Linked DNA regions of Homo sapiens. The protein of the gene in region 1 interacts with the protein of each later gene in a pairwise test. Each region holds a gene or a part of one and is shown in the gene's direction. Other genes may lie near its edges.

Region 1 (7,027 bases):
TTTTTTTTTTTTTTTTTTTGAGATGGAGTCTCACATTGTTGCCTGGGCTAGAGTGCAGTGGTGTGATCTTGGCTCACCGCAATTTCCACCTCCTGGGTTCAAGCGATTCTCCTGCCTCAGTCTCCCGAGTAGCTGGGATTATAGGCATGCGCCACCACACTCGGCTAATTTTTTTGTATTTTTAGTAGAGATGGGGTTCTCCATGTTGATCCGGCTGGTCTTGAACTCCTGACCTCGTGATCAGGACCAGCTCGGCCCCCAAAGTGCTGGGATTACAGGCGTGAGCCACCGTGCCTGGCCGACTTCGAATTTTTTAATAAGAATTTTTTGGCCGGGCGCAATGGCTCACACTTGTAATCCCAGCACTTGGAGAGGCCGAGGCAGGCGAATCACCTGAGGTTGGGAGTTCCAGACCAGCCTAACCAACGTGGAGAAACTCCGTCTCTACTAAAAATACAAAATTAGCTAGGCCTGGTGGCGCATGCCTGTAATCCCAGCTACTCCGGAGGCTGAGGCAGGAGAATCGCTTGAACCCAGGAGGCAGAGGTTGCGGTGAGCCAAGGTCACACCATTGCACTCCAGCCTGGGCAAAAAGAGTGAAATTCCATCTCTCAAAAATATAAAAGAATTTTTTATTTGGGTCTAAAAATTTAGAATTTAGAATATGACTACCAACTTAATTTCTTAGTCTTTGTTTCAGATAATATATCTCAGTGGAGTATTTAGAGTTTAAGAAGATGAGTAATCATGGAGCTGAGTACTTGATAAGTTTGAGAACATGTTCATGATCATTGTGGGGATATGACATTTTTTACCTCTTACCATATATCGATTCTCACCCACCCCCCATTTTTTGAAACAAGGTCTTGCTTTGTCACCCAGGGTGGAGTGCATGGCTCACTGCAGCCTCGACCTCCTGGGCTCAAGCAGTCCTCCCACTTCAGCCTCCCAAGTAGTCAGGACCACAGGTGTATGCCACCATGACTGGCTAATTGTTTAATTTTTTTGTAGAGATGGGGTCGCACTGTGTTGCCCAGGCTGGTCTCGAACTCCTGGGCTCAAGCTGTCTCCCTGCCTTGGCTTCTCAAAGTGCTAGGATTACAGGCATGAGCCACCACACTCAGCTGATTCCCTTTTTAGTAAATCTACTAGATCTATGACTTTATTTGTTAATAATTAGAGTAGCACCATGTTTTTAAGTGATTAGAACTCTTGAAAATGAATATCCACACTAAATTCCATTATAGCAAAGAACTAATTTAGAAAATGTTCATAATGAGAGTTTTGATGGCGATTTGTTTTGAGTAGTGTTGAAAGGCTCTTAGAGTGCATGTGAAGGGATGAATCTTTTGAGAAAAGAAAGATAGTAGACATTTTCTGAGACATAAAATAATCCAGATTTATTCCACCAGACAGCTTTACAGTGTATAGTATTTTAAGAGCTAACTGCCTTCAGATTCACTGGACTTTTCTGTCCTTTTGCCAGGTACTGACTTGGGCAACAGCAGTGACTACAAGTGCCATACTGACCAATTGGAAGAGTCTTTGCTTATCGGAGCTGTTCTAAAAGGCTTATTAGTTTTTGGTCTTCATTCTATTTAATGTTTTCATGCCTTTATAAACTTTTTACTTCCAGCCCAATTTTTCCCATTGTCTTGGTACAGGTCAGCTGTGTCCAAGTTTGTTAGGGTTTCAGCTAGCCAAAAATGGTATTTTCATTTGCTGAAATTCTAAACAAAATAATTAAAGTTAAAGCACAGATGATGATGCTACCTTATTTTTCTACATGTGGGAAAGCTTGATTGATAGTAATGATTAGCGCCTGCATCTCACAATCACTGAGAAATGAATGCAGCACTGAGCTCTGTTTGCCCTCTAAGCTTGTCCCCAGAAAAAACAAGATATACCCTAAATAGTAAGTTATAATATTTTTATTAGGGAACATTATTAGAGTTTTTTTTTAATATATCTCGTAGCCATGTCATATTAATCTTTTTTCTTTTTTCCTTTTTTTCATTTTTCTCTTTTCTCTTCTCTTCTCTTCTCTTTTCTCTTTCTCACTCTGTCACCCAAGCTGGAGTGCAGTGGCATGACCATGGCTCACTGCAGCCTTGACCTCCCAGACTCAAGCAATCCTCCCACTCCAGCCTCCCAAGTGACTGGGACTACAGGCACGTGCCACCATGCACGGCTAATTTTTCTATTTTTTGTAGGGGCAGGATCTCAGCATGTTGCCCAGGCTGATCTTGACCTCTTGGACTCAAGCAATTTTCCCTCCTGTGCCTCCCAAAGTTCTAAGATACAGGCATGAGCCACCACACCCAGCCTAGAGAATCCTTAATGTTTGAAGTCTGTCAGGCTATCATGGTGCTCAGCAGAGGATGTGTTAGTATTCTGAGAATAGGACTTCTAACTTTAGTTTTACCTGAGATTATTCTACACCTAACTTGAAACTTTTGGAGTATTAAAGGTTCAAAGAAGTTAAGAGAAAAGCAAAGCTTGATAAACTGACCAGTTTGTGTCCTGCTAAAGCATAGACAGTTTTACCATGCTCTTCCCAGTGACATGAATATTCTTTGGTTAGCATTCAATTTGGTTGCTTTCTTTTTTGTTTAATCAGGCACTGTCACCACTGTATTATTGTCATCATTTTGCTTATTGATTTTGCTTATTGTCTGCCTTCCCCTCTGTGTTGTAAGCTCCATAAAGGCAAGAAATTTTTTCTGTTTTATTCACTGCTTTAAGCCCAGTTTCTAAAACAGTGTCTGACACGTGGTAGGCACTCAATAAATACCTGTTGAATTATTACTAATTCATTTTGTAGACTTTCATCTGTAAGATGACAGATCTGAATCATCTGAAATCTCCATCTCCATAAAACATATAAGCTGGCTGGGTGCAGTGGCTCATGCCTGTAATCCTAGTACTTTGTGAGGCTGAGGCGAGCAGATTGCTTGAGCTCAGGAGTTCGAGACCAGCCTGCGCAACGTGGTGAAACCAGCTCTCTACTAAAAATACAAAAAATTAGCCAGGTGCGGTGGTGCACGCCTGTAATCCCAGCTACTTCGGAGGCTGAGTCAGGAAAATCGCTTCAATCTGGGGGGCGGAGGTTGCAGTGAGCCGAGATTGCACCACTGCACTCCAGCCTGGGCAACAGAACTAGACTCTGTCTAAAAAAAACACACAAAAAACACACAAAAAAACATATAAGCTGAACCTCCCCTGTGGGGTGGAGTCAGTTTGACTCACCTCAGAGTTGTTTGAAGAGAGAGGTTCCCAAACAGTTTTACCATAACCTTAGTTCACTGAATGTTTTGTGGTAGAAACACTGACTAGTAAGTTCAGTAACAATGCATGGCTCAGATTGTGGAATATTTCTGATTTAAATGTAATCTGTAGTACTTCACACTTCAGATTTTTGAACCTTTTAACCTACAATACTGGGCTTCATTTCTGTTATGCCCTAATCTAGTCATGCTGAATATCCATACTGTATAATGGTAGATGCAAACCATGTTTACTAAATTAGAACTACATATGAATTACAGTTTACTTCAAGTGTTTTGTTTTGGTAATATAGCTTTGCCACCAAGCTTTTACAGTTTTCCTTGAATGTACAAAGACTTTTTATTCTAATAACCAGATTACAGTTATACTATTTCTAAAGCTCAGCTCTTATTACATCAAGTTTCAGTGATGTGTTGAAGTAGGGGAACTTTATATGGCATTTCAAAACATTTTCATAATACTGGAATTTTATTTATTGTAAAATATTTTTGTCTTTAATAAAATAATTTTGAATGAAGTCATAATTTTGCTTTTATCTGGTATTTGGATGTTTACATGAAAAAGGGAACATAAGCTGAATAAAGGTAATCCCAAAAGAACTTCTCTGTCACATTTTCCCAGTTACTCATTCATGCTCAAGGCATTGCTGTCCTGAGCCTACTTAGGTCTCAGCTGACCAAGCTGAATCTTTGATTCACTTATTTGGGGCTATTTATTTAAGACCCACTTTGTCCCAGCTCCAAAGATACAACAGTATGCAAGAAAGACAGCGCCCAGGGTGGGCGTGGTGGCTCATGCCTATAATCCCAGCACTTCAGGAGGCCGAGGTGGGCAGGTTGCTTGAGCCCAGTAGTTTGAGACCAACCTGGCAATGTAGTGAGGCACCAGGTCTGTAGAAAGTTTAAAAATCAGGCCAGGCGCGGTGGCTCATGCGTGTATTCCCAGCTCTTTGGGAGGCCGAGGCAGGCGGATCACGGGGTCAGGAGATCGAGACCATTCTGGCTAACACGGTGAAACCCCGTCTCTACTAAAAATACAAAAATAAAATTAGCCAGGCGTGGCGGCGGGTGCCTGTAGTCCCAACTGCTTGGGAGACTGAGGCAGGAGAATGGCGCGAACCCGGGAGGCGGAGCTTGCAGTGAGCAGAGATCGCGCCACTACACTCCAGCCTGGGCGACAGAGCAAGACTCCGTCTCAAAAAAAAAACAAAAAAAAAAAAAAAAGAAAAGAAAGTTTAAAAATTAGCCAGGTGTGGTGGCATGTGCCTGTGGTCCCAGCTACTTGGGAGGCTGAGGTGGGAGGATAGCTTGAGGCCAGGAGGTCAAGGCTGCAGTGAGCCACAATTGTACCACTGGCACTCCAGCCTGGAGGACAGAGGGAGACCCTCTCTCAAATACAAACAAACAAATAAATGAAGTAAGAAAGCACCAGCCCTTGGGATATTTGTTTTGATCCTTTTCCCCAGTAAAAATTTGTTAGAGTGGGAAGTTAGAAAACAGTGTGGTAGATTGATGGCTACTATGGTATTAACTGATAAGACTTAACGTATTACTTTGAGAAGGATATTTTCTATTTTAAAAGTAATTCTGGAGTTAACTCTGTCTTTTTTTTTTTTTTTTTTTTTTTTTTTGAGACAGTTTCACTCTTGTTGCCCAGGCTGGGGTGCGATGGCGTGACCTCAGCTCACTGCCATCAATGTCTGCCTCCTGGGTTCAAAGGATTCTCCTGCCTCAGCCTCCCGAGTAGCTGGAATTACAGGTGCCTGCCACCACGCCCGGCTAATTTTTTTGTATCTTTAGTAGAGATGAGGTTTCACCATTTTGGTCAGGCTGGTCTCGAACTCCTGACCTCAGGTGAGCCACTGCACCCAGCCAAGTTAACTCTGTCTTAACCAAAGAAATCAATTTGCACAGTACAATATTGATTTAAATGACAAGTTAGTACAAGAGATTTTGGAGGGGCCAGGCGTAGCGGCTCACACCTGTAATCCCAGCACTTTGGGAGGCCAAGGCGGGTGGATCACTTGAGGTCAGGAGTTAAGAGACCAGCCTGGCCAACATGGTGAAACCCCATCTCTTCTAAAAATACAAAAATTAGCTGGGCTTGATGGTGCCTGCCTGTAATCCCAGCTACTTGAGAGGCTGAGGCAGGAGAATGGCTTGAACCTGGGAGGTGGAGGTTGCAGTGAGCTGAGATTGCGCCATTGCACTTCAGCCTGGGCAACAAGAAAAAGACTCCGTATCAAAAAAAAAAAAAAAAGATTTTGGAGGGGGTCCACCTTTTTCAGTACCCTTTAGTTTAGAACATCACAGCTATTTATTTGTACATGGGACAGATTCTCCCTGTGGATAGAATAGAATAATTCTAGTCTCATTTTTCAGATTCAGGAAGGGCCCATTGCATCTCCTAAAAATCAAAAAAGTCTGGCCACTAGTTTTTTTCCTTTTCAGATTGTGAGACTAACAGATTTATAGAGGCAGTCTGTGCTCTGAATTGTTCAGCTTACAGATTGAAGTCTATCAACCCTTTATAGTATCAGGTTATTTGTTTTGTATAAATTATTTTGCTTTTGTTGATTAGCTCTATCAAAGAATAAAAAACCTCCCAAGATTTCTCAATCTTACCGCCCTTCTTTATGCTTTCTCTGTACAATGGAAAAGTAGACCAAAAGTATTTGTCATGAAAATTTTTTATCATTTGCAGTTTGTGGCATGATATGGCTTTTCTGTTTCACTGTTGGCAGTTTTATGCATGTCCTGTAGGATAACTTGATCGTTTTGTTACATATTTATGTGTGTATATATACATCCTGTGTGTGTATATATATATTTATGTAATTTAAAAAATAAAAAGCATGCTGCTTGGCTTGGCTAGCTAATGTGTAATTGTACCTGGTAAACAATTTTTTTCTTTGAAATTCTGATCATAGAGGGATTGAGCTCTCTTTGCTCTGATGAGCCATCTTCAGAAATTATGACTTCTTCCTTTCTTTCATCTTCTGAAATACATAACACTGGCCTTACAATACTACATGGAGAAAAAAGCCATGTGTTAGGGAGCCAGCCTATTTTAGCCAAAGAAGGAAAAGACCACTTGGATCTTCTAGATATGAAAAAGATGGAAAAGCCTCAGGGGACCAGCAACAACGTATCAGACTCTTCAGTTTCTCTTGCAGCAGGAGTTCATTGTGACCGTCCTTCTATTCCAGCCAGTTTCCCAGAGCATCCTGCTTTTCTCTCAAAGAAAATTGGTCAAGTGGAAGAGCAAATAGATAAAGAGACCAAGAACCCAAATGGGGTATCAAGTAGGGAGGCTAAAACTGCATTGGATGCTGATGACAGATTCACTTTGCTGACAGCCCAGAAACCACCTACTGAGTACTCTAAGGTAGAAGGCATTTATACATATTCTTTGTCTCCATCCAAAGTTTCAGGAGATGATGTTATTGAAAAGGATTCCCCTGAATCACCATTTGAAGTAATTATTGACAAAGCAGCATTTGACAAAGAATTTAAAGACTCATATAAGGAGAGCACAGATGATTTTGGTAGCTGGTCTGTGCACACTGATAAAGAATCATCCGAAGACATTTCAGAGACTAATGACAAGCTTTTTCCACTGAGAAATAAAGAGGCAGGACGTTACCCAATGTCTGCATTGCTCAGTAGGCAGTTTTCACACACAAATGCAGCACTGGAAGAGGTGTCCAGATGCGTGAATGATATGCATAACTTTACTA
Region 2 (7,027 bases), on another chromosome or scaffold:
GGAAAAAAAAATTTTTTTGGTAATGACTGAATTGATCAGATAGGTCTCATCTGTTGCGCCAGAGAAATTGTCTAATGTCAAACTGTGCTTGTAATTTCTAGTATAATCTCAATTTGGTTGTAATACATAATTTTATATTTGTTGCAATAGCTTGATTGATATTTTATTGAGGATTTTTGCATTTATGTTTATGTGTAAGATTGGCCTATAATTTTTATTTTTTGTAATATTCATGTTTGGTTTTTGTGTCAGTTATATTAGTTTTATAAAATAAACCTGAGGGGCATTCCATCTTTAGTAATTCTTTAGAAGAATTTGAATAAGCCTAATTATTTGGATATATGGCAGATTTCACAATAAAACTATTCTATGTGTGCATGGGAGAGACAGAATTAGAGCAAGAGATAGAGAGCAAGTTGCAGTAGATACATAATTCTGATGTAATTCATTTAATGGCTATAGCAACATTTGAGTTTTTGTTCTTATAAAGAATAACATAAAGATAATAGCTTTATACCTTTATAAAAGCTGTATATTATTTGTTACCATAAAGCTCCATCTTTTAAATTACATAATTTGGTGGTTTTTATTTGCAGAGTTGCCCATTTTTAAATTGAATTATTTGTCTTTTTATTGTCGAATTGTTAAGAGTTTTATATATATTTTGTATACAAGTCTCTTATCAGATATATGATTCATAACATATTTTCTTCTATTCTGTGGGTTTTTTCACTTTTTTAATGGTATCTTTTGAAGCACCTAAGTTTTTCATTTTGATAAAGTCTAATTTATTCATTTTTTTCTTTTGTCACTTGTGCTTATGATGTCATGTCTAAGAAACCATTGCTTAATCCAAGATCACAAATATTTGCTCCTATGTTTTCTTATGAGAAAGAAAACATATACATATAAAATGTTGTCAAACATTTTATAGTTCTAGCTCTTACACTTAGGTTTGATACATTTTGAGTTAATTTTTATATATGATAGGAAGTGAGAGTTCCTTTTTTGCATTTGCTTATCCATTTGTTCTAGCACTATTTGTTGAAGAGTATTGTTTCCTCCGCTAAACTGTCTTGGCACTCTTATCAAAATAAACTGATCATAATTTTAAGAAATTATTTCTGGACGCTTAATTTTGAATAGATGATCCATAATGTCTATTTCATATGTCTTACCCCAAGGACTAAAATATATTCGTCTGTATTTTGTACTAGATTTTTAAAATATATAACATTTTCTTAAACTATCCAGTTATGTTTTTTAAAAATATAAGGTAGAGTTTCAATTTCATCTTTTTCCATAGAGATAACAATTTTTCCCATCTGAATGCCTGAATTTCCTACTGATCTTACATGCCAACTCTCCCATGTACCACATTTTCATATGCATGTGGGTCTGTTTCTAGGCTCTGTTCTATCATTCACTCATCTATTGCTGTACCAATACCACACTGTCTTTAATTATTATAGCTTCATAGTAGGTCCTAAAATCTGGTGGGGTAAGTCTTCTCTCCTTGCTCCCTTTAAGAGTGCTTTGGCTGTCCTGGGCTCTTTGCTTTTTCATATAACTTTTAGAATCATCTTATTTAATTCTACAAAAATTCCTATTAGGCTTATAAAGTTTGAATTGCATTGAATCTATAGATTAACCTGGAAAGAATTCACATATTTATGATATTGGGTCTTCTAAACCATGAACGTGATATATTTCTCCATGAATTTAGGTCATTTTAGAAACATCTTTTAATATGCTTTTATAATTTTCTCCATTGAATTTTCACATATCTTTTGTTAGATTTATTCCTAGCCATTTGATATTCTCTGAGGTCACTGCAAATTGAATATTTTATTTAATTATGTTTGTAGTTTTTTGCTGATATGTAGAAATTAAACTGACTTTCATATGTTAATATTATATTCAGCCAATTTGCTATACTCTCCTATTAATCAAAATTTGTAGAATTTTTATTTTTATGTAAATAATCATAACATCTGCAATAATAAGAAGATTACATTTGAACAAAGATATGAAATATGCAAAGAAATAAACTATATGAATATCTGGAGAAGAACATACCAGGCAGAAGAAAGAAAAAATACAAAGGGTTTAAAGCAGGAACATGACTGATATGTTCAAGGAATATCAAGGAAGTTAGAGTTTCTGGAATGCTGTGAGCAAGCAGGAAAGTGATAGAAGATAAGACCAGAGGTATTGGCCAGATTATGTTAGGCCTTGTAGACCCCTGAAAGGACTTAGGTTTTCACTCTGACTTGGACATCTGATGGAGGGTTTTGAGCAAAGGAGTGACGTGATCTGAGTTATTCTTGCTACTCTGTTGAGAATAGAATATAAGGGTCAAGGACTAAAGCAAAGAGGTGTGATAAGGGGTCATTGCAGTAATCCAGATGAGATGATGGAGGCTTAGACCAAGGTGGTAGTGGGGAGAGGTGGGGAGAAGTGGCTAGATTCTGGATGTATTTTGACGATAGAACCAGCAGGATTTGCTAACAGACTGGGTATTGCTTAAGAGAAAGAAAAAAGCATCAAGGATGATTCCAAGTTTTTTGGTTTGAGCAATTGGAAGAGTAGAGTTTCCGTTAGTAAAGAATGTTATTGAAGAAGTGGGAGATCAGTTCATACAGTATCTTCTTTGTAAGGCATATGAAAGAAATTTAAGAACTTGCTTTGTTAGTTTTTTTGTTTGTTTCTATCTAACGGGAGCTGCAAGTTGTGAAGCTGATTGCATTGCATGCTAGAAAATGAAGAACATTTGTGTCCTTTGTAGCAAAGGTATAGCTATCTAAAATTTGTGTGTTTTTTATATTGACTTCATTCACATTTGGCCTTTGTCTTTTTTCACTATTTCTAATTTATTCTCTTATATGTTATATATCCTTGTATACCTCCTTAAAACCTTTTTAGAACAGGCAGAGTCTGAATTAATAAAAATAAGTTGTTTGTATTGTTTGCTGGCAAAAATGAAATGTAGGCAATAGTATTAATTTTTAAAAACCACGTTAAAGTTTAAACTTAGATCATCTTGAACTATAAATATGTGTTTTTGTGAGTTTACACACACAGTTTTGAGTGCCTGCTGAGTTCCTACAACTGTATCATCCATTCAGCAAATTCAGTGAATAGTGCTGTTCTAGGCACTTGATACATCAGTTAATGAACCTACCATCAGGGAGCTTGCATTCTCCTGGGGAGGATACTGACAAACAGCACATGTAGTAGATTAGTAAATTATACAGTATGTTAGAAGGTAATACATGCTATGGGAAAAGAAAAAAGCATTATGAGGGAGGTTAGAGATGAAGGGAATGTGGGGATTGAGGTATTAGAGTGGTCTGGATGGGCCACATTGAGAAAATGAAATTGGAGCAGAGACTTGAAGGAGGTGAGGGCGTGAGTTATGTGGCTGTCTAAGGAAACGGCGTTTCATTAAAGGGAACAGCAAGTGGAGGTTCCGAGGTAGGCACGTGATTAGAATATTGAAGGAGCAGCTAGGTGACCTGTGTGTATTTGAATAAGAAGAGTAGTAGGAAATGAGATCAAAGAGGTAACGAGATCGTGGGCAAATTGCGCAGGGACTTGTAGACTTCTGTTAGGACTGGAGCTTTTTCTGAGTGAAAGCACGTGCCACTGCAGAGTTTCAAGCATAAGAGGGGCATGATTTGACTTGCATTTTAAAAGGAATGCTCTGGCTATTATACTTAACTTTCAAAGGAGTTGATGATTATTTCTGCGATTTTAGGTATATTACAGCTAATACTGACACAGAAGAACAGAGTTTTCCAGTCCCTAAGGCATTTAACACACGTGTAGAGGAATTAAATTTAGATGTCCTTCTTCAGAAGGTAGATCATTTACGTATGAGTGAGTCTGGCAAGTCGGAGAGTTTTGAACTACTTCGTGACCACAAAGAAAAGGTAAGAGACATAACAATAGCACTTCGTATAGTTCCATTTTTTAATTTAATCTGCCATCTGTTTCAGTTATAACTATAATAATTGTGTCATGGTTCCCACATTTTGATGATTGATGTAAAATTTCTCTATAAAATGACTAAAATTTTTTAAAATTTATTTTTTATTTAAGATGCATAAAATTTTAAAAAAGTAAATGTAAAAGTTTATTAGACTCTAAGGTCATAAAAATGAGAACCAGAGCTATAATTACGCAGATTTACTTTTATTTGATTTTTTTTTTTTACTAATTTATATATTTAACAAATATTTTGAGACAGATATGGGTATTCAAAGCTATTTCTACCAATGGTCATTTGTTGATTTTGCAGTGTTTAGTGTTGGGTCTGAATAAGAAAAGCCTGTCCAGAGCTCTTACCACCACCACTAAAAAAAATAAAATAAAATAAAATAAAATTAAAAATTAAAAGTTTGCAGTGTCCCATGGAGAAATAAATCTCTATTTGTCTGAGGATTTAGCAACTCTAAACACATTGTCTAAAACTTGATAGCTCTCCAGGATTATATTTAGGTAATTTGAGTAAAAAAAGTGACTGCTCTTTTGAGTATATGCATTTTCAATTTACAGATATTAACTGAGATGCTCATTATATTGATAATAGATAACTTGGAAAGGAAAAGAAGAAAAGGATGCCACAGCTCAGGAAGAATTTCTAGATTTTGGTGCCTATCAAATCTCTTCTCTGCATAGATGGAGCTAGTGTCTGGATAATATTAATTGGTTTTAAGATCCAAATGTAACACTACATTAGGTCATATTTCTTAGCCATGAGTATTTGGATTAAAAATGTTTCACACGAAATATGCATATACATAGATTCAATAATCTATAAATACCAGTTTACCTGCCTAAGTTTTTAAAAAGTTGCAGTAGAAAACAAGAATAGAATAGACAAGTTACCAAGTTAATTTAACAGGCAACTCCATCTTTTCTTTTCAGTTTAGAGATGAAATAGAGTTTATGTGGCGATTTGCTCGTGCTTATGGAGACATGTATGAACTATCTACAAACACACAAGAAAAGAAACATTATGCTAATATTGGTAAGCATTTTGTAAAGATTATTCTCAAGTAGCAATTAAGATCTATAGTAAATCATGCAGCCGTAAAAAAGGATGAGTTCATGTCCTTTGCAGGGACATGGATGAAGCTGGAAACCATCATTCTCAGCAAACTAACACAAGAACAGAAAACCAAACACTGCATGTTCTCACTCATAAGTGGGAGTTGAACAATGAGAATACATGGACACAGGGAGGGGAACATCACACAACAGGGCCTGTCTTGGGGTGGGAGGCTAGGGGAGGGATAGCATTAGGAGAAATACCTAATGTAGATGTCGGGTTGATGGGTGCAGAAAACCACCGTGGCACGTGTATACCTATGACCTGCATGTTTTGCACATGTATGCAAGAACTTAAAGTGTAATAAAAAAAAAGATCTATAGTAAATCACTAGTGAATGTTAACTAAAGCTAAATTATCTTAGCTAAAACCAGTATGTTTAATCTATTTTAATATATTATGGTACAAAAAAATGTACACTCTCAGAACAGAAAGGCATTTTAGGGCTAAAGTATATGTTCTTCAGAAATATTTGAATATATTAGAATAGGTAACTGAAAAAAACTTAAATTTCATCTTTTAACTTTATAAAACTTAGACAAGAAATGTAGTGGCAGTGTTTGAGAAACAATAACAGGCAGAGGACAAGTGTCTTCAGCAGTTGTCAACCACAGTTAAAGTAACACATCTTACTTCCTGTAATGTAGAACTCTAGGGACTACGAAGAATAAACTCGCAGACTTTAATGTTTTTTCCAAATGTATCTTGATGAAACAAGATTAACCTTGTTAAAAACTCTGTTTGATAATTGTCTAAGCTGAATGATGATTACATGTTGGTTCATTATTCTGACATCTATACTTTTCTACAAGTTTTTGAAATTTTTCATCACAACAAGAACAACTAAATAGATAGAATATCAAACTGTTATTTTTATACCTCACCTTGACTCTTACTGGATGTCAAAATGTGTCCTTGCAAAAGCCCCTACCTGCCATCTCTCTGAATGTCAGCATAGTACTTTGACATCAAAATCTTTTGAATTCTTCATTTATTCCGAAGGCTTCTCATTTCCAGGCTTTTCTTCTAGAAAAGATAGCAAGAGGAAGACACAGCAAGAAAGATTTCTTCCCAGTCTAGTTCTCTGTAATTTTTATTTCCAAGTAGAAAGTTTTACCAAACTCCTTGTAATTATATTTTTCCACTTGGAGATTCATTTGCTGAATGACCTCTGTGCTTTCGTTTCCCCCAGTGGGAGGAGGATGAGAGGGCTTCCCCCTCTTGTTTGCATATTCATCATCAGCTTTGTGGAGTTTTTCTGTAGCATTCCAGTTTGCAGACCATATACAAAACAGAATTCTAGAGAAGAGATGTATTAATTTCAACATAAATAAAAACTTAACCAAGGAGAACAAGGGGATTTATTTTCATATCTACTGAGAAAATCCAAGTATATCTATGTAAAGTGTTCCAACATTCATCAATATTAAATACATTTTTTTCTTTTTTTTTTTAAATTTTTTTAGTATTTATTGATCATTCTTGGGTGTTTCTCGGAGAGGGGGATTTGGCAGGGTCACAGGACAATAGTGGAGGGAAGGTCAGCAGATAAACATGTGAACAAAGGTCTCTGGTTTTCCTAGGCAGAGGGCCCTGCCGCCTTCTGCAGTGTTTGTGTCCCTGGGTACTTCAGATTAGGGAGTGGTGATGACTCTGAACGAGCATGCTGCCTTCAAGCATCTGTTTAACAAAGCACATCTTGCACCGCCCTTAATCCATTTAACCCTTAGTGGACACAGCATATGTTTCAGAGAGCACAGGGTTGGGGGTAAGGTTATAGATTAACAGCATCCCAAGGCAGAAGAATTTTTTAGTACAGAACAAAATGGAGTCTCCTATGTCTACTTCTTTCTACACACAGTAACAATCTGATCTCTCTTTCTTTTCCCCACATTTCCCCCTTTTCTATTC
Region 3 (7,027 bases), on another chromosome or scaffold:
GTCGTTCTCTTGAGTTAGTTAGCTTTGTTATGTTTTCATGGACATAATTAACCTCCCTTCTGTGCTTAAAAATGTTCGACCAGTTTTATGTTGTCGTCGTTTTGTTTTTTTTTTGAGATGGAGTCTCGCTCTGTCGCCCAGGCTGGAGTGCAGTGGCGTGATCTGGGCTCACTTCAGTCTCCGCCTCCTGGGTTCAAGTGATTCTCCTGCCTCAGCCTCCCAAGTAGCTGGGATTATAGGCGCGTGCCACTACACTTGGCTAATTTTTCGTATTTTTAGGAGAAACAGGGTTTCACCATGTTTCCCAGGCTGGTCTCAAAAACTTGACCTGAAGTGATCCACCAGCCTTGGCTTCCTGAGGTGCTGGGATTACAGGCATGAGCCACCGTGCCTGGCTGTTCAACCAGTTTTAGAAAAGATTTGGTAGGAAATTTCTTCATTGAGTCAACATGAATTTATTACCACTTCTGGGGAAAAAAATCACTACTTAGAATACATATCCTACAAATAATAGAGTAGTATTTTTGTATGTTAAGGACAAATACTTAAAAAATTTAGTTGTTGACTGAGCATGGTGGCTCACGCCTGTAATCCCAGCACTTTGGGAGGCAGAGGCAAGCAGATCCCAAGGTCACGAGTTTGAGACCAGCCCGGCCAATGAAACTCCGTCTCTACTAAAAATACAAAAATTAGCCAGACATGGTGGCGGGCATCTGTAGTCCCAGCTACTCCTGTTTGGGAGGCTGAGGCAGGCGAATCGATTGAACCTGGGAGGCGGAGGTTGCAGTGAGCTGAGATCATGCCACTGCACTCCAACCTGGGTGACAGTGAGACTCTGTCTCAAAAAAAAAAAAAAAGTTGGGTTGTTAATGGAAATTTAGGGGTTCAGTTCAGGATTTTATAAATCTGGCTGCATGTCAGATCACCCCAGAGATTCTGACTCAAAAGTCTAAAATAGGGTCCAATTCTCTTTTTAAAATAAATGCCCCAGGGTGATTTTTTTTTTTTTTTTTTTTTTTTTTGAGGCAGGGTCTCACTCTGTTTCCCAGGCTGAAATGTAGTGGCGCAGTCTTCGGCTCACTGCAGCCTCAACCTCCTGGGCTCAAGCAATCCTCCCACCTCAGCCTCCCAAGTAGCTGGGACCACAGGCATGCCTCACCATGCCCAGCTAATTTTAAAAATTTTTTGTAGAGACAGGGCCTCGCCTTTTTGCCCAGGCTCCTCTCGAGCACCTAGGCTCTAGCAGTCTTCCCACCTTGACCTCCCAAAGTGCTGGGATTACAGGCATGAGCCACCGTGCCCAGCCCCAGGGTAATTTTGTCACAGCTGGGCAAGTGTTAAGAAATGCCTTTCTTAATTTACTGTTAAAAATCTAAACATAGCACTGGGCAAAATAAAGTTGTAGGTATTTTCATAGTTACAAGGCTAAGCATGCATTTCAAGATCGTAAATGTCCATTCAAATCAAATTCTGTTTTGTTTCAAAAAGTTATGAAACAAAAAAGGGTAATCTTACTTTGTCCTTTTCATGTGATGAATTTGGAAGGGCCCTTTAAATTTATTATAATGGGATTTTATATGAAATTTGTTGCACCTTCATGAAATAATATTAAGTATAGAGACAAAGCTTCTAGAGAGAGGTTGTGTTTATTTTGCTTCCTTTTGATGTCACTTTTTACTCTGCTAGGCACCCTGTGAGCAGTTAGTAAATCTTCAGTAGTGATGGCCATGGACAAGCTTGAGATCCAGTTAATGGAGATTAACTAGGAGATTCCTATCTGGGAATGGCAAGACTGCAGTTGTGGGCACTGCCAGTCTCTTCCTTATTTATTCTGCTTGCAGATAGGCTCCTAATTAGAAGCTTCACTCCATTAAAGCAACACTTGTTATCATAAGTGTTTGCATCCATTGTGAATGCTCTCTTTTAAAACTTTGCATAATACAGTTGCTTGTTTTTTCCTGTGCTTTTTGTTCAATCAATACATGCTAGTAAGTGCTTATTTTTTTAAAGAATTTAATTTACATACAATGCTTTTTGACTAGTATGAAGTGCTCCTTTGTGTACAAGATCATGATGATCCAGCCATTGATGTATGTAAGAAGCTTCTTGGAAAATATCCAAATGTTGATGCTAGATTGTTTATAGGTAAGTAACAAATTCTGTAGTAACCATTTTCCATTGATAGTATTAAGTATCAGTAATCTCTGCATTGAACTGAAGATTAAGGTGTTAGCCATGTTTGTTTTAAACATGTTTGTTGGAGTACTGAGAGGTGTTTACGTCCTTTTGAGAAAAGTTATAAAAACAAAGGTTTTTTTTTTTCATATCTGAGATGAACAAAATCACACACAAAATAATATTTTTCCCATTAATCAGACATGAGGGTCTGTTATTTTTTGTTTCTTCAATATTTTAAATGTGTGGCCTTTTCTGTATCTTACTGACTATAATTGGAGTGAATGATAGAATTCACTTTTATTACATTACAAGAAGGGTATTTTTCCAAAAGCCTACAGGCTTATTTGAAAGACTTGTAGAGGTGTGTTTGCCATTAGTGTTTTTTTTTTTTTAACATAGAGCTGATGTGGTCTCTCTAAAAAACCAGTAAGTCGTATAAAATGATATCAGATCTTTGCTATTTGAAGATCGGGCAATGATTTAAATTTTTTATTAGCTTAAAATGCAAATTTGAAAATTAATATAAGTGTAGCATGCCTACGAATTAATCAGGACCATTACAAATCTATCAGCTCATGGTCAGAGATGCTCATTCTTCACATGTGCTATCTTAAATTATTTACTGTCATATATTTATGGGGTTTTTTTGGTTTTTTTTTTCTTTGATACGAATTTTTTGCTCTTATCACCCGGGCTGGAGTGCAATGGCACAATTTCAGCTCAGTGCAACCCCTTCCACCTGGGTTCAAGCAATTCTCCTGCTTCAGCCTCCTGAGCAGCTGGGATCACAGGCGTGCATCACCACGCCCAGCTAATTTTTTTGTATTTTTAGCAGAGACAGGGTTTCACCACGTCAGGCTGGTCTCGAACTGCTGACCTCAGGTGATCCACCTGCCTCGGCCTCCCAAAGTGCTGGGATTATAGCCTCCCCAGTAGCTGGGATTACAGTCAGGCACCACCACGCTCAGCTAATTTTTTTGTATTTTTAATAGAGATGGGGTTTCGCCATGTCATACTGGTCTCGAAGTCCTGACCTCAGGTGATCCACCCCCCTCGACCTCCCAAAGTGCTGGGATTACAGGCGTGAGCCCATGGTGCCTGGCCATGTGTGTTTACATTTAATAAACCTTTATTAAATATAATCTTACTGTATTTATGAATTTATACTGTTTTAATTATAGCTTCAAAATAACGCCTGTAGCTTTTTCCCTTAGGATTATTTTTTAAATTGACAAATAAAATTTGTATATATTTTTGGTGTACAGCACGATGTTTTGAAATATATATATATGTACACATTGTGGAATAGCTAAATTAAGTTAATTAACATATGCATTACCACACATATTTATTCATGGTGGGAAATCTCTCTTAGCAGTTTTCAAGTAAACAACATGTTGTTATATACTTTCTCATGTACTTATACTTTATTTGTGGTGAGAAATCTACTCTTAGTCATTTTCAAGTATACCATACATTGTTGTTACCTATAGTTGCCATGTTGTACAATTGCCATTAAATATTGACTCATACTTAACTACTAAGGCAAGGACTTAAGAATTAGAAAAAGTGAAACAGTGAATTTTCAAAGATAAATGATACAGTTTTCCTTTTGAGAATGGACAGTTTTTTCCTAAATATATTATTATGAATAATAGAGAATGTTAAATAATATGAAAGTATGTTTAATTATTAAATATGCAAGTATTCTCATTTCTATCATGTATCTTTATACTATAAAATATTTTTAATGTTGCATAAATCTTTTACTACTGTACCTTTACATTTTTAGGTGGCAAAAAAGTTGGCATTAATCCTAAAATTAATAATTTAATGCCAGGATATGAAGTTGCAAAGTATGATCTTATATGGATTTGTGATAGTGGAATAAGAGGTGAGGTTTTTTTCTTATTTATTTTATAAAACTATTAATTTGAAGATAAAATGCTAAAAGCAATCTCAGATACATTCATGAGTTCTTTTTATTTGCCTAAAAGAGTAATTTATTTCATCATCATTTCATGGTAATATGTCCAGTTATGCTTACTAAGATTTTGATTTTTTTAATCCTAAACTAGAATGTTACATGTATTAAAATGTTTTCATTTTGAAGAGAAAATTTCAACCATTAAATTAAAAATGGTTGTGGTTCATTATATAATCTGCAAGCTTTCCCATGGGTGTAACTTTTCCCTTGTTTGCCTGACACTTATCTTTAATGTGTTTCGGCTTGCGTAATACACCGTCTCACAAAGGGACAGAAATTAATAGGTGCATATTTTACTAAAACACATACACTTATCGGACTATACACATGACTTTTTACTTAAATGATTTTAGCAAGAAGCCTTTCATATACTGAAATTATAACTTGCATTTTCGAACACTCATAATAGTTTCAGTGTTCTATAATATTTTCTTATATTCTAATTGCCTTAAGCTTCTCAACCCCAATACTGTTCACATTTTAGGCTTTGTTGTGGGAGCTGTCTTGTAGGATGTTTAGCAGCATGCCTGGTCTCTACCATGAGATGCCAGTAGTACCCCCTTCTCAGTAGTAAAAGCAAAAATATCTTCAGATGTTGCCGGATGTCCCCTGTGGGGCAGAATTGCCCCCAGTTGAGAAGCACTGACCTAGAATGAGTATTTAAGGTCCAAATACAACTTTTCTTTATACGGTAGATTTAGTTCTTAAAGACTTGGAGGAAATGAAAAATAAGGTCATGTAAAAATGATATGAGATGTTTGCTAAAGATTGGGCAATAATTTAAATTTTTTATTAGCTTAAAATGCAAATTAGAAAATGAACATAAATGTTGCACTCCTATGAGTTAATCAAGACCATTACAGATCTATCAGCTGGTCAGAGATGATGTTCATTCTTCATATTTGCTATCTTAAATTATTTACTATCATATGTTTTTCAGTGTACAGATCTCTGTTCAATATAATCACGTTCCATTCCTGTGTGGAAATCTGATACTCACAGAGAAAATAGTCTCATTTCCTATGGTTGGAGAGTAGAGAAGCCAGCACGAGAACTGAGGTCCTTTAGCCTCTGCTCCTGAGCCTTTTCCACTAGGACAGATTGTCCTTATTCCAAATTAGAAGTTCCAACAGGGGGTAACTTTTTCAAAGTATATTCTGCCTCTGGTACATAGTAGGTATATACTGGGCTAAAAAATGTATAAATTAGCTTTCGAGAATTAGGCCCTTTTGAAATTTTGTATTCTCCTCAGAAAGGTGGTTGAGATTCATTTTATTAGATCCATATGTTTAAAATAATGTATTTTATTAAGAATGTAATAACAATTCACAAAATATATTTTATATTAATGGGCATTCTACTAAAAACAAATTTTCTTTTCTCCCCCTCTCTGCCTTTTTTTTAAATTGTAGTAATTCCAGATACGCTTACTGACATGGTGAATCAAATGACAGAAAAAGTAGGCTTGGTTCACGGGCTGCCTTACGTAGCAGACAGACAGGGCTTTGCTGCCACCTTAGAGCAGGTGAGTATGGTGGTTATAAATCATGTTCATAGTATCAGACCCCTCATTTCCCAGAAGCTTGAGACTATGGGAGCTGGAATTAGGTATCTCAAGTTAACTGTATTAAGTCCATTTGGGAACCTGCTGTGTTCTAGAAGCCCTGAGTTGAGAGCAGCTGTTTTCATTAGTGAGGAAATTCTTGGGACCCTGACTGTACCCTGGCAGTGAACAGCTGTGCGCAGGAAATGCCTGCGGTCTTATTGCCAGCTGAACACAGTCTAACCTCTTGCCTTGTAGTATTCACTTCCTGTTCTAGAGTTCAGTTCTTTATATTGTTCTTTCAAACATTCGATCTGAAAAGAACCGCTGGCCCCCTCCCCCCAGCCTTTTTTTTTTTTTTTTTTTTTTTTTTTTTGCGACAGAGCCTTGCTCTGTTGCCCAGGCTGGAGTGCAGTGGCACGATCTCGGCTCACTGCAACCTCCACTTCCCAGGTTCAAACGATTCTTCTGCCTCAGCCTCCCAAGTAGCTGGGATTTCAGGTGTGCTACCACACCTGGCTAACTTTTGTATTTTTAGTAGAAATGGGGTTTCACCGTGTTGGCCAGGCCGGCCTCAAACTCCTGACCTCAAGTGATCTGCCTGCCTCAGCCTCCCAAAGTGCTGGGATTACGGGCATGAGCCACTGCGCCCAGCCCTCAAAAGAACCTTTTTAAAATACCACAAAGTATTTCAAATATACACAAAAGAAAATGTATTCATACAAGTCCTTATAAAACCTATTTGATGTCCTTTTAAAACATATTTCTAATAATTACCTGAGAAACTTATGTTTTCATTTTATTTTTTCTCCAACTTAGAAATAGTAACATCCATAGGAAACTATAAATAATGGAAAAGTATAAGATGCAAAAAAACAAAAACCAACAACCTAGAACCCTAACAATTACAGGAAGTTTATGGGGTTTTTTTGTTTTTTTTGTTTTGTTTTTTTTTTAGATGGAGTCTCGCTCTGTCGCCCAGGCTGGAGTGCAGTGGCGCGATCTCGGCTCACTGCAAGCTCCGCCTCCCGGGTTCACGCCATTCTCCTGCCTCAGCCTCCTGAGTAGCTGGGACTACAGGTGCCCGCCACCATGCCTGGCTAATTTTTTGTATTTTTGATAGAGACAGGTTTTCACCGTGTTAGCCAGGATGGTCTCGATCTCCTGACCTCGTGATCCACCCTCCTCTGCCTCCCAAAGTGCTGGGATTACAGGCGTGAGCCACCACGCCCGGCAGGAAGTTTCTGGTTTTAAAAATAAACATTGTATCATTTGGACACTTTGGAGTCTTTATTTCCCCCACCACCCCCTTCTGGGCC

What was found. The genes of interacting proteins can lie anywhere in the genome.
Region 2: the proteins of RTN3 (region 1) and RMDN2 interact in binary tests that used the Homo sapiens proteins (3 or more experiments, as listed by UniProt).
Region 3: the proteins of RTN3 (region 1) and UGCG interact in a two-hybrid assay, tested with the Homo sapiens proteins (one study listed by BioGRID).

What each region holds. Positions count from the first base shown.
Region 1 is NC_000011.10:63,712,485-63,719,511, forward strand, and holds part of RTN3 (reticulon-3), read left to right. Parts: intron 1-6,217; coding exon 6,218-7,027. UniProt on the Homo sapiens protein: May be involved in membrane trafficking in the early secretory pathway. Inhibits BACE1 activity and amyloid precursor protein processing. May induce caspase-8 cascade and apoptosis.
Region 2 is NC_000002.12:37,970,280-37,977,306, forward strand, and holds part of RMDN2 (regulator of microtubule dynamics protein 2), read left to right. Parts: intron 1-3,760; coding exon 3,761-3,935; intron 3,936-4,932; coding exon 4,933-5,035; intron 5,036-7,027.
Region 3 is NC_000009.12:111,920,807-111,927,833, forward strand, and holds part of UGCG (ceramide glucosyltransferase), read left to right. Parts: intron 1-2,042; coding exon 2,043-2,145; intron 2,146-3,970; coding exon 3,971-4,072; intron 4,073-5,577; coding exon 5,578-5,690; intron 5,691-6,666; coding exon of another isoform or gene 6,667-6,828; exon of another isoform or gene 6,829-6,985; intron 6,986-7,027. UniProt on the Homo sapiens protein: Participates in the initial step of the glucosylceramide-based glycosphingolipid/GSL synthetic pathway at the cytosolic surface of the Golgi.